2 separate regions of the Homo sapiens genome follow, and region 2 is linked to region 1. Evidence: fine-mapped expression QTL. A gene starts in region 1. The other region holds a variant in brackets. All regions are shown on one strand. Distances are between the middles of the regions.

Region 1 (5,373 bases):
CCACTGCACTCCAGCCTGGGCGACAGAGCGAGACTCCATCTCAAAAAAAAAAATTAGCCAGGTATGATAGTGCGCACCTGTAGTCCCAGCTACTCAGGAGGCTGAGGCAGGAGAATTGCTTGAACCTGGGAGGCGGAGGTTGCAGTGACCCGAGATTGTACCACTGCACTCCAGCCTGGGCGACAGAGTGAGACTCCGCCTTAAAAAGAAAAAAAAAATTAAAAACAATAAAAATTACAATTACAATTAAAAAAAAAAAAAAGAACCGGGCATGGTGGCTCACACCTGTAATCCCACCACTTTGGGAGGCCGAGGTGGGCAGATCACGAGGTCAGGAGATCGAGACCATCCTGACTAACACGGTGAAACCCCATCTCCACTAAAACTACAATAAATTAGGCGGGCGTGGCAGCAGGTGCCTGAAGTCCCAGCTACTCAGGAGGCTGAGGCAGGAGAATGGCATGAACCCGGGAGGTGGATCTTGCAGTGAGCAGAGATCGCGCCACTGCACTCCAGCCTGGGTGACAGGGTGAGACTCCATCTCAAAATAAATAAATAAAAGAAAGAAAGAAAGAAAGAAAACCCAAGGAGTAAAGTATTCAGCACAAGGGTAACACAGCACAGGGCCTGGGTACAGTAAAGGCAGCTGTCATTAGCTGCTGTCACCCCATTCTCCATCTCTCCCTGGTCCTGCCCCTCTCAGGCCTACACTGTTCCGCAGGCAGCTGCATCCTAATGGCATATAGTGGGTAGGTGAGAAGGCAGAGAAGTTGGGGGCTCTGGGGGCTGCAATCACCTCCTCATTGAACAGCTTGCTGGTGTCCTTTTTGATGAGATCCAGGTACTGCACTTGACCCGCTGAGAAGCCCACCAGCAGCGAGATGGTCTCGGTGGCAGCAGTGAACTGGTTGAAATCGTGGCAGGTGGGCTGGGTGCCCTTGTAGATCCGCTTGTCAATTGGCTTGTTGAGGTCAATGGACTTGAGGGGTGGGAGAAAAGGAGTTAATGGTGTATGCCACTGAGGAGAAGGAAGAGGATGTTGAGGTTGGGGGAAACCACTAAGAGGAAGCAGGGTTAGAACCCAGAGGGAAGTGGGGAGGTGAGTAGGTGGATTGCGAAGGACGGGGCAACCACAGACGGGAAGGGGACCCAAATCACAGACAAGAGTAGCAAAAAAGATGGTAAGGATCCCCCTTGACCACAGTGCCTCCCCAAAGTTGGGTCACCTCTAATTCAGAGACACCCTTGTCCACATAATCAGGGTTCTGGGTCCACACAGTTCCTAAGCTCCGATTCCTTTTAGCCTCACCACTCCATCCTATAACCTCAGCAACTCCCTTGGGACCTAGTACCACACTATTCCAAGACCCCCAAACCTTGAGGTCACCCAAATTTCCAGGACTCTAAAGCCTAACATCCTAGCATTCTCTTCACTTTGTAGTCCCTAAACCGCCACAGTTCTGGGACCCGTCAAACCTCACGGTCTCCCACATTTTAGGCCCATTTATTACCTAGGGGCTCCGAAGGATCCCCATCATTTCTGGGATCACCATAAACGGCCAGGGTTCTCACCACATCGCTTTAGAGATGTCCTGAATCACACCTGCAGATTCCCCTGCCAGGGCCTCTCATTCCCTTGAGAGCTCCCATCAGCTTCCGGACGCTCATCTCCTCCAGGACCCTCATGACTTCCAGACCCCAATTTTCTCTAGAATCCCATTCAGCTTCTGGATCCCCTATCACCTTCAAGGCCCCCATCACTTCTAGACTTCTCCTCATTCCTGGGCTCAATCTCAAGACCCCTCTCCCACACCTCCAGGCTGCAATACTGGGTTCTCCATCACCTCTGGGCTTGCATCACCTCATGATTCCCCATTACCTGCAGAATGCCTGCCACCCCAGAACCCGGGGGATCCCACCTCATCTCAGATACCCCATCATGTCCAATAGTCACCATCCCAGAACTCCTACGCATAACGGGGGTAAAGGGGATTTCCCCCATCACCTCCAAGATGCCTGCCCAGCACCCCGCGGGCCTCTCATCACATTTCAGAATCCTGTACTCCCTCCAATGCTGTCGCCCTACAACGTCCATCACATTTAGAATGCCTATCTCAGGGCCCCATATCAATTCGGGGACCCTCCTATCAGTTCTCTGGAACCTCCATCCTTTCAGCACCCAGGGCCCCACGATGCAGGCCGCTCACCCGTTGGCTCCCACGACGACAGCAGCCTGGGTAGAAATAGAGCTCACGGCCCAAGTTGAAGCAGACGCGGTCTCCCCCCGAGCCCAGCCCCGCGGGCGTGGCGGGCGGCTCCCCGGCCCCGGCGCTGTCCGGCTCCCCGAGGCGCACGAGGCTGAGGCGCACGGCGGGCAGGGCGGGCCCGGGTCCGGGGCCTGCGGGCGGCGGGGACGACGCGGGGCCTGCAGCGCCGGGACCGGAGGCGGAGGCAGGGCCGGGCGGGGGCTGCGGTGGCTGAGGCGGCACCGGAGTCTGGGCGGAAGCCGGACCCGACCTGCGAGCGGCGCCGTCGCCCGGGAGTAGCTTGTAGAAACCCTCGCGCGTGCGGAATTGCGACTTAATCTCCGCGCAGTCCCCCATGGCGGCGCCGGGGCCCGAGCCGCCCTCCGCGCCGCCCGCCGCCATCTTGGGCGCCCCCCGGGCCCCGCCACTGCCGGACTGCCGCCCGCAGCCGGGCCCCCTCCCGGAAGCCGCTGGCCCGCGCCGGAAAAGGTGGGGTCGTCGCCCGGGCAACGCCTCTTCGATTGGCACCCAGATCCGGAGGCGGGACGAATCCCCGCGGTCGCTCGGGTAACGGTGCTGGGACTGTGGGCGGGGCGAGAAGGTGGGCGCGGCCTTTGAGCCTGTGACCGACTTGTGGTTGGCTGCGGGGGCGGAGCCCGCAATGGAAAGAGGCGTGGCCAGTTAGAAAGCTCAAGTCCTTAGCAACCGCGCCCTGGGAACGTTTGCCTAGCAACGGAGGGATTTTTTTTTTTTTTTCCCCCACGACAAAGAAGCCCTCATCCATAGTCCAGCCTTCCCATGAAGTCACAGCCAACCCCAAGTGACCCTGGTCTCTCCTTAGACGCCCAATATACACTCCCCTGACCTCCAGTGTTTCCCACTGACATATTCAAATCCCTGAATGACCACAGCATCTGCTACCATTCTTCCCCACCCTTGGTGACCCACCAAATCCCTGTGTCCCCACACAACTCAGAGGACTTCCTCTGACCCACTATTGATTAATGCTAACTCCAAACATCCTTCATATTTTCCACCAACCTCCAATGTATATTTCCATGATTTTCTTATTTTCAACAACCTCACTTGTCCTCCAAAACCTACCTCTGATTCCCAAATTGTATTGATCCCCACGGTGCCCCAGTGTCCCAGTGATCCACTCGTAACCCAAAGTCTCCCCCTGATCCCAACAGCTCCTACTCATAGCCAGTGCTCCCCATGTCTGCTGAAGCCACCCAGCCCCATCATAGATCTTTCTAGTCTCATGTAGTCAATGGCCTCTACGATTTCTCCCTAGAGTGTCCCAAGGGCATCTCACACTTAAAAAAAAAAATCCTACAATGGTTCGGGCATGGTGGCTCATGCCTGGAATCCGAGAATCCCAGCACTTTGGGAGGCTGAGGTGGGAGGATCGTTTGAGCCCAGGAGATCAAGACTGCTATGAATTCACATCACTGCACTAAAGCCTGGGGGACAGAGTCAGACTCAGTCTCTCTAAAAAAAAAAAAAAAAGAAAGAAAAAAGAATCCTACAATGAAATTGACGTCTTACACCAAATCCTCCACCTCTCTTGCATCCCCACCTTAGGGCTAGCTCTGCCGTCCACTCAGTCAACCAGGCCACAGACCTGGGTGTCTTCCTAGATGTGTACCATTTATCTTCACTCTGCCCCCGCTTACAGCCTCCAAGTCTTTTGCATTCGACCACGTGGAATTCCTCTTTCTCAGTTCCTTGTTCTCCCTGATCCAAGCTTCTCCTCTACCCAAGCCCTTCCCCCACCCCCACATCAACCGTGTCTCTTGGTCTCCCAGATTTCTGTCTCACCCCCACTTCCACCTTTCACTTGGCATGTAGAGAGGTTTTATTTTGTTTTTGTTTTTGTTTTTTTTGAGACAGTCTCACCCTGTCACCCAGGCTGGAGTGCAATGGCTCCATCTCGGCTCAGAGACGGGGTTTCACCATGTTGGCCAGTCTGGTCTCGAACTCCTGACCTCAGGTGATCCACCCACCTCGGCCTCCCAAAGTGCTGGGAGTACAGGCATGAGCCACTGCACCCGGCTTTTTTTTTTTTTTTTTTTTTTTTTGAGACAGAGTCTCGCTCTTGTCACGTGGGCTGGAGTGCAATGGGACGATTTTGGCTCACTGCAACCTCTGCCTCCTGGGTTCAAGTGATTCTCCTGCCTTAGCCTCCTGAGTGGCTGGGATTACAGGCACCTGCCACCACACCCAGCTACTTTTTTGTAGTTTTAGTAGAGACGGGGTTTCACCATGTTGGGCATGCTGGTCTCAAACTCCTGACCTCAGGTGATCCGCCAACCTTGGCCTCCCTAAGTGCTGGGATTACATGTGTGACCCACTGCACTAGGCCTAGAGAGGTCTTTCTAAAGCATGAATATGATCAGGGCCCTCCCCTGCTCAAAACCCATCTGTAGCTCCCTAGTGCTCTCAGGGGAAAGTTAAGCCCCAAGTGATCTGGCCCCTGCCAACCTCTTTTCAATCTCATATCTCACCACTAACTCCTCACACTATCCACCACCTAAAATGAGGCTTGAAAAACTACCCCAACATATCACACTCTCTCTTGTCCTTGGGTCTTTGCACATTCTGTTCCCTATTCTTGGAATGCCTTTCCCCATTCTTTTCTTGACCCTTTAAGAGTTGGCTCGGGAGCTCTGTCAGTCCTCTGGGCTTCCCCATTTGGGCTGTCACTGTCTGGAAATGAGTCTCTCTCCCTATAGTGTTGTGAGGTCCAGGAAGGCAGGACTGCAGCTGTCTGTGTCCCCAGCACAGGGGTGGGCTGACAGGAGGTATTTCAATAATGGTTTGATGGCTAGGTAAATGAATAAATAAAACAGGTGGGGCTGGTCGCGGTGGCTCACAGCTGTATCCTAACACTTTGGGAGGCCAAGACAGGCAGATCGCTTGATGCCAGGAGTTCAAGACCAGCTTGGGCAACATAAACCCCATCTCATAGTGAGACTCTGAAAAATTGAAAAAATTTAGCTGGGCATGGTGGGCTGTGCCTGCAGTCCTAGTTACTCAGGACCCTGTCTCTACAAAAAATACAAAAATTAGTGTATGTGGTGATGTGCACCTGCGGTCTCAGCTACTCCGGAGGCTGAGATGG
Region 2 (5,373 bases), 70 kb before region 1:
GCAATCTCGCCTCAACGCAGCCTCAATCTCCTGGGCTCAAGTGATCCTCCCATCTCAGCTGCCTTCTTTTTTGTTTTTTTTTTTAAGACGGAGTCTTGCTCTGTTGCCCAGGCTGGAGTGTAACGGTGCGATCTCGGCTCACTGCAATCACTGCAACCTCTGCCTCCCGGTTCAAGCGATTTGCTTGCCTAAGCCTCCCAAGTAGCTGGGACTACAGGTGTGCGCCACCATGTCCAGATAATTTTTTCATTTTTAGTAGAGATGGAGTTTCACCATGTTGGCCAGACTGGTCTCGAACTCCTGACCTCAGGTGATCCACCCCACCTTGGCCTCCCAAAGTGTTGAGATTACAGGCGTGAGCCACTGCACCTGGCCTAATATTTGTATTTTTAGTAGAGACAGGGTTTCACCATGTTGATCAGGCTGGTCTTGAACTCCTTACCTCAAGTGATCCACCCGCCTCAGCCTCCCAAAGTGCTAGGATTACAGGTGTGAGCCACTGTGCCCAGCCTATCCCAGCCTTTTGAGGAGCTGAAACCACAGGTGTATACCAGCACGCCCAGCTAATTTTTACATTTTTTTGTACTGATGAGGTCTCACTATGTTGCCTAGGCCAGTCTTGAACTCTTGAACTCAAGCAATCCTCCACCTTGGCCTCCCCAAGTGCTGGGACTACAGGCAGGAGCAACCACACCAAGTCAGAACTTAGAATCAAAGATCAGCTGACTCCAGAGCTCAAGGTCTAAACTACAATATAAACATCATCCTGGCTGGGCGCAGTGGCTCACACCTGTAATGTGGTGGCAGGCTCCTGTAATCCCAGCTACTCAGGAGCTTGAGACAGGAGAATCGGAGAATTGCTTGAACCCAGGAGGCGTGGCTGCAATGAGCCGAGATTGCACCACTGCACTCCAGCCTGGGTGACAGAGCAAGACTCTCAGCCAAAAAAAAAAAAAAAAAGAAGTGAAGCGGGGAAAAAAACAACAGAATAAACCAAACAAATAAGGAAAAATAGGCCACGTGTGGTGGCTCGCGCCTGTAATCCCAGCACTTTGGGAAGCCGAGGCAGACAGATCGCTTAAGCCAATGAATTTGAGACCAGCCTGGGCAACATGGCAAAACCCCGTCTCTACTAAAAATACAAAAATTAGCCAGCATGTGCCTGCAGTCACAGCTACTCGGGAGGCTGAAGTGGGAGGATCGCTTGAGCCCGGAAGTGGAGGGTGCAGTGAGCTGAGATTTTGCCACTGCACTCCAGCCTGGGTGCCAAAGCGAGACCCTGGCTCAAAAACACCAAAACAGAAAGAAAGAATGGAAAAATAATGATAAATGGTAAAGCGTAGATGTCTGACCCCACCCCACTTCCCCATCCCCACCCCTAGTCAGATGACCCCGCTCCCCATCACAGGGCCAGGGTCACACCCAGCACAAGGCACTTGCCCAGTTACATGGGAATTGGTGGCAGGACACCAGGGTTTCGTTCCTGGTCCTGTTCCTTTTTTTTTTTTTTTTTTTGACAGGGTCTTGTTCTGTCACCCAGGCTGGAGTGCAGTGGCACGATCTCGGCTCACTCGAACCTCTGCCTCGTGGGTTCAAGCAATTCTCCTGCCTCAGCCTCCCAAGTAGCTGGGACTACAGGCGCCCGCCACCACACCCGGCTAATTATTTATATTTTTAGTAGAGTTTCACCATGTTAGCCAGGATGGTCTCGGTCTCCTGACCTCGTGATCCACCCAAAGTGCTGGGATTATAGGCGTGAGCCACCACGCCCGGCACCACCCCACCCTTTTTTTTTCTTTTTTTGAGATGGAGTCGTGCTGTTGCCCAAGCTGGAGTGCAGTAACACGATCTCGTCTCACTGTAACCTCCACCTCCCCTGCCTCAGCCTCCTGAGTAGCTGGGATTATAGGCACCTGCCACCATGCCCGGCTAATTTTCGTATTTTTAGTAGAGACAGGGTTTCACCATGTTGGCCAGGCTGGTCTTGAACTCCTGATCTCAGATGATCCACCCACTTCCCGTAGTGCTGGGATTACAGGCATGATGCACCGCGCCCGGTCCCTGTTCCTTCTATGCCCTACCCTGCTGCTCCTTTGTCCAGAATCCTGACTCATCCATACCTCACCCATGGCTTGTTGGCCTTAGAGTCCACTGGGTCCCCTCCCTTTTAAGTTTTCCTTTCTGACTAATGGTCCCTGAAGGCAGGAATCATCCAAGCCCTGAGATCCTGGAAGCAGACAGGAACCAGACAGGGCCTGCTGGATCCCAGCTTTCCCACCTCTGGCAGTATGACCTCAGGCAGGTTTTTCAGCCCCATGTGCCTCAGTTTCCCCCACTGTAAAATGGCAATAATGACAGCATCCACCCATGGGCTGGCTGACCATCCGCTGAAACAAACCCAGCAGAGCACCTGGTACCAGTTTGGCACTGAGGCGTAGCTCACACCTGTAATCCCAGCACTTTGGGAGGCCCAGGCAGGCGGATCACAAGGTCAGGAGATCGAGACCATCCTGGCTAACACGGTGAAACCCCGTTTCTACTAAAAATACAAAAAATTAGCTGGGTGTGGTGGCGGGCGCCTGTAGTCCCAGCTACTCAGGAGGCTGAGGCAGGAGAATGGCGTGAACCCGGGAGGCGGAGCTTGCAGTGAGCCGAGATTGCGCCACTGCACTCCAGCCTGGGCGACAGAGCCAGACTCCGTCT[C/CA]AAAAAAAAAAAAAAGTGGGCTGGGTGTGATGACTCATGCTTGTAATCCCAGCACCTTGGGAGGCTGAAGCGGGCACTTGAGGTCAGGATGAGACCAGCCTGGCCAACATAGTGACACCTTGTCTCTACTAAAAATACAAAAAATTAGTTGGGCATAGTGACAGGCGCCTATAATCCCTGCTACTCGGGAGGCAAAGGCAGGAGAATCGCTTGAACCTGGGAGGTGGAGGTTGCAGTGAGCTGAGATTGTGCCACTGCACTCTAGACTGGGCTACAGAGGGAGACTCCATCTCAAAAAAATAAATAATTAAACATAAAAATTGAAAGTGAAGGCTGTGGGTGGTGACTCATGCCTTAATCCCAGCACTTTGGGGGGCCAGGGCAGAAGGATCGCTTGAGCCTTGGAGATCAAGACCAGCCTGGGAAACAAAGTGAGACCACATCTCTAAAATAATTTTTTAAATTGGCTGAGCATGGTGGCATGAGCCTGTAGTTCCAGCTACTCGGGGAGGCTGAGACAGGAGAATCCGCTGGGCCCAGGAGTGTGAGGCTGCAGTGAGCTATGATCATGCCACTGCACTCCAGCCTGGGCAACAGAGGTGGGCCCTGTCTCTAAGTAAATAAATGAATGAAACACTTGTGGATTACTTAGGGAATGAACGCTAATTTTCCAGAGGAGGAAACTGACGTCCAACGGGATCAAATTACTTACCCTAGGTCACACAGCTGATGAGAGGTGAAGCCAGGACTCAAAGCTGGGCACTCTGGCTTTTTCATTTTATTTTTGTTTTGTTTTGCTTTTTGTTTGAGATGATCTCACGCTGTCACCCAGGCTGGAGTGCAGTGGTTCTGTCACAGCTCAATGTAGCTTCAACCTCCTTGGCCGCCAAGCCCAACTAATTCTTCTTTTTTTTTCTTAGACGCAGTCTCACTCTGTCACCCAGGCTAGAGTGCAGTGGCATGATCTCAGCTCACTGCAACCTCTGCCTCCCAGGTTCAAGCAATTCTTCTGCTTCAGCCTCCCGAGTAGCTGGGACTACAGGCGTGCGCCACCACGCCCAGCTAATTTTTGTATTTTTAGTAGAGACAGGGTTTCACCATGTTGGCCAGGCTGGTCTTGAACTCCTGATCTCAGGAGTTCAAGAAAAAAAAAAGAAAACTTGTGCTTTTAGGAGTAAGACAGCTTTACCATAGCAGTTAGAAATACATCATTAAACGTGGTAAAAAATACAATTTTTTTCTTCGTTTCCTAGTACATGTCACAGGTTTTGAAATAAAGATGGTAAAAATACCATTTTGTATGAGTAAGCTTCAGACAAGCACAGGCTGAAAACAAATTTAAGATTTCAAGAAAAGGCAAAATAACTTGGAAAGCAGACAAATGCTCTAAGACAAATAAATGAAGGCAACGGAAAACAAAAAAGTGTCAGATCACCCCAGGGTGGCCAGATGTGACACATAGGATCAGGGACAAGTGAGAGACTGGCAACTTTTCCCCAAACCAATAGGTTTTCAGATAATTCAATGAGGGCTGGAGACAGAATGTTAAAAAATCCATGAAAGCAGTGACAAGCAGGCCAAGCTGGCATAAGGGGCTGAAAATGAATTGGGAATAGAGAAACCCAAACTTGAAAATGAGCACAAATGCTCGCATACTTGCAGAACTGCCCTACCATTATGACAACAGCAAGTTCCCCAATGGCAGGGTCGAGTCTGCACCCAATACAGGCGCTGGCACATGGTAAGTGCTCTATTAACACTTGTGGGCTGGGCTCTGTGGCTCATGCCTGTAACCCAGCACTTTGGGAGGCCGAAGTGGGAGGATCACTTGAGTCCAGGAGTTTGAGAGCAGCCTGGGCAATATAGCAAGACCCTGTCTCTACAAAAAAAAAATTTCTTATTTTTTCTGTTCGAGACGGAGGCCTGCTCGTTACCCAGGCTGGAGTGCAGTGGTGCAATCTCAGCTCACTGCAACCTCCGCCTCCTGGGGTTCAAGTGATTCTTGTGCCTCAGCCTCCCGAGTAGCTGGGACTACAAGCACACGCCACCACGCCTGGCTAATTTGTATTTTTAGTAGAGATGGGGTTTCACCGTGTTGGCCAGGCTGGTCACAAGCTCCTGACCTCAAGAGATCTGCCCATGTAGGCCTCCCAAAGTGCTGGGATTACAGGCATGAGGCCACTGTGCCCCATCAACAACAAAATTTTTTTTTTAATTAGCTGGGCATGGTGGCAAGCACCTGCAGTCCCAGATACTCTGGAGGCTGAAGCAGGAGGATCACTTGAGGCCAGGAGCTTGAGGCTGCAGTAAGCTGTGACTGCACCACTGTACTCCAGCCTGGGCAACAGAGACAGGCCCTGTCTCTAAATAAATAAATAGGCTGCGGTGGCTCAACCCTGTAATTCTAGCACTTTGGAAGGCTGAAGTGGGTAGATCACTTGAGCTCAGGAGATCGAGACCAGCCTTGGCAGCATGTATTATTCATCTCTACAAAAATTACAAAAATTAGCCAGGTGTGGTGGCATGCCCCTGTAGTCCCAGCTATTTTGGAGGCTGAGGTGAGAGGATGGCGTAAGATCAGGAGGTGGAAGTCACAGTGAGCCAAGATAGTGCCACTGCATTCCAGCCCGGGCAACAGAGCCAGACCCTGTCTCAAAAAATAAATGAACA

Which allele goes with the higher level. Positions count from the first base shown, and alleles are read on the strand shown. Sizes are in standard deviations (SD) of each study's normalised expression.
For the expression in Th1/17 cells of the gene that starts at base 2,737 in region 1, CA is the high allele of the variant in region 2 and C is the other (moderate effect, 0.74 SD a copy in Schmiedel 2018).

What was found. PIP is the estimated chance that this variant, and not a neighbour inherited with it, causes the effect. A credible set is the group of variants that fine-mapping cannot tell apart.
Region 2: its variant is the best candidate, but not a certain one, in a credible set for the expression of DMWD in Th1/17 cells (Schmiedel 2018, PIP 0.55).

The regions. Positions count from the first base shown.
Region 1 is chr19:45,790,109-45,795,481 of GRCh38, forward strand. It overlaps DMWD (DM1 locus, WD repeat containing), which reads right to left and starts at 2,737. Exons shown (of 5, transcript NM_004943.2): 1 at 2,208-2,737; 2 at 797-979. The coding sequence starts at 2,648. RefSeq lists enhancers at 1,108-1,167, 1,188-1,237 and a silencer at 2,386-2,865.
Region 2 is chr19:45,720,058-45,725,430 of GRCh38, forward strand. The region is part of intron 1 of FBXO46 (F-box protein 46); the gene reads right to left. Among named protein-coding and RNA genes, the nearest start is that of FBXO46, 8.2 kb to the right of the region's middle. RefSeq lists an enhancer at 593-1,093 and silencers at 1,974-2,268, 2,014-2,308. The variant C/CA (reference allele first, on the strand shown) is at 2,704.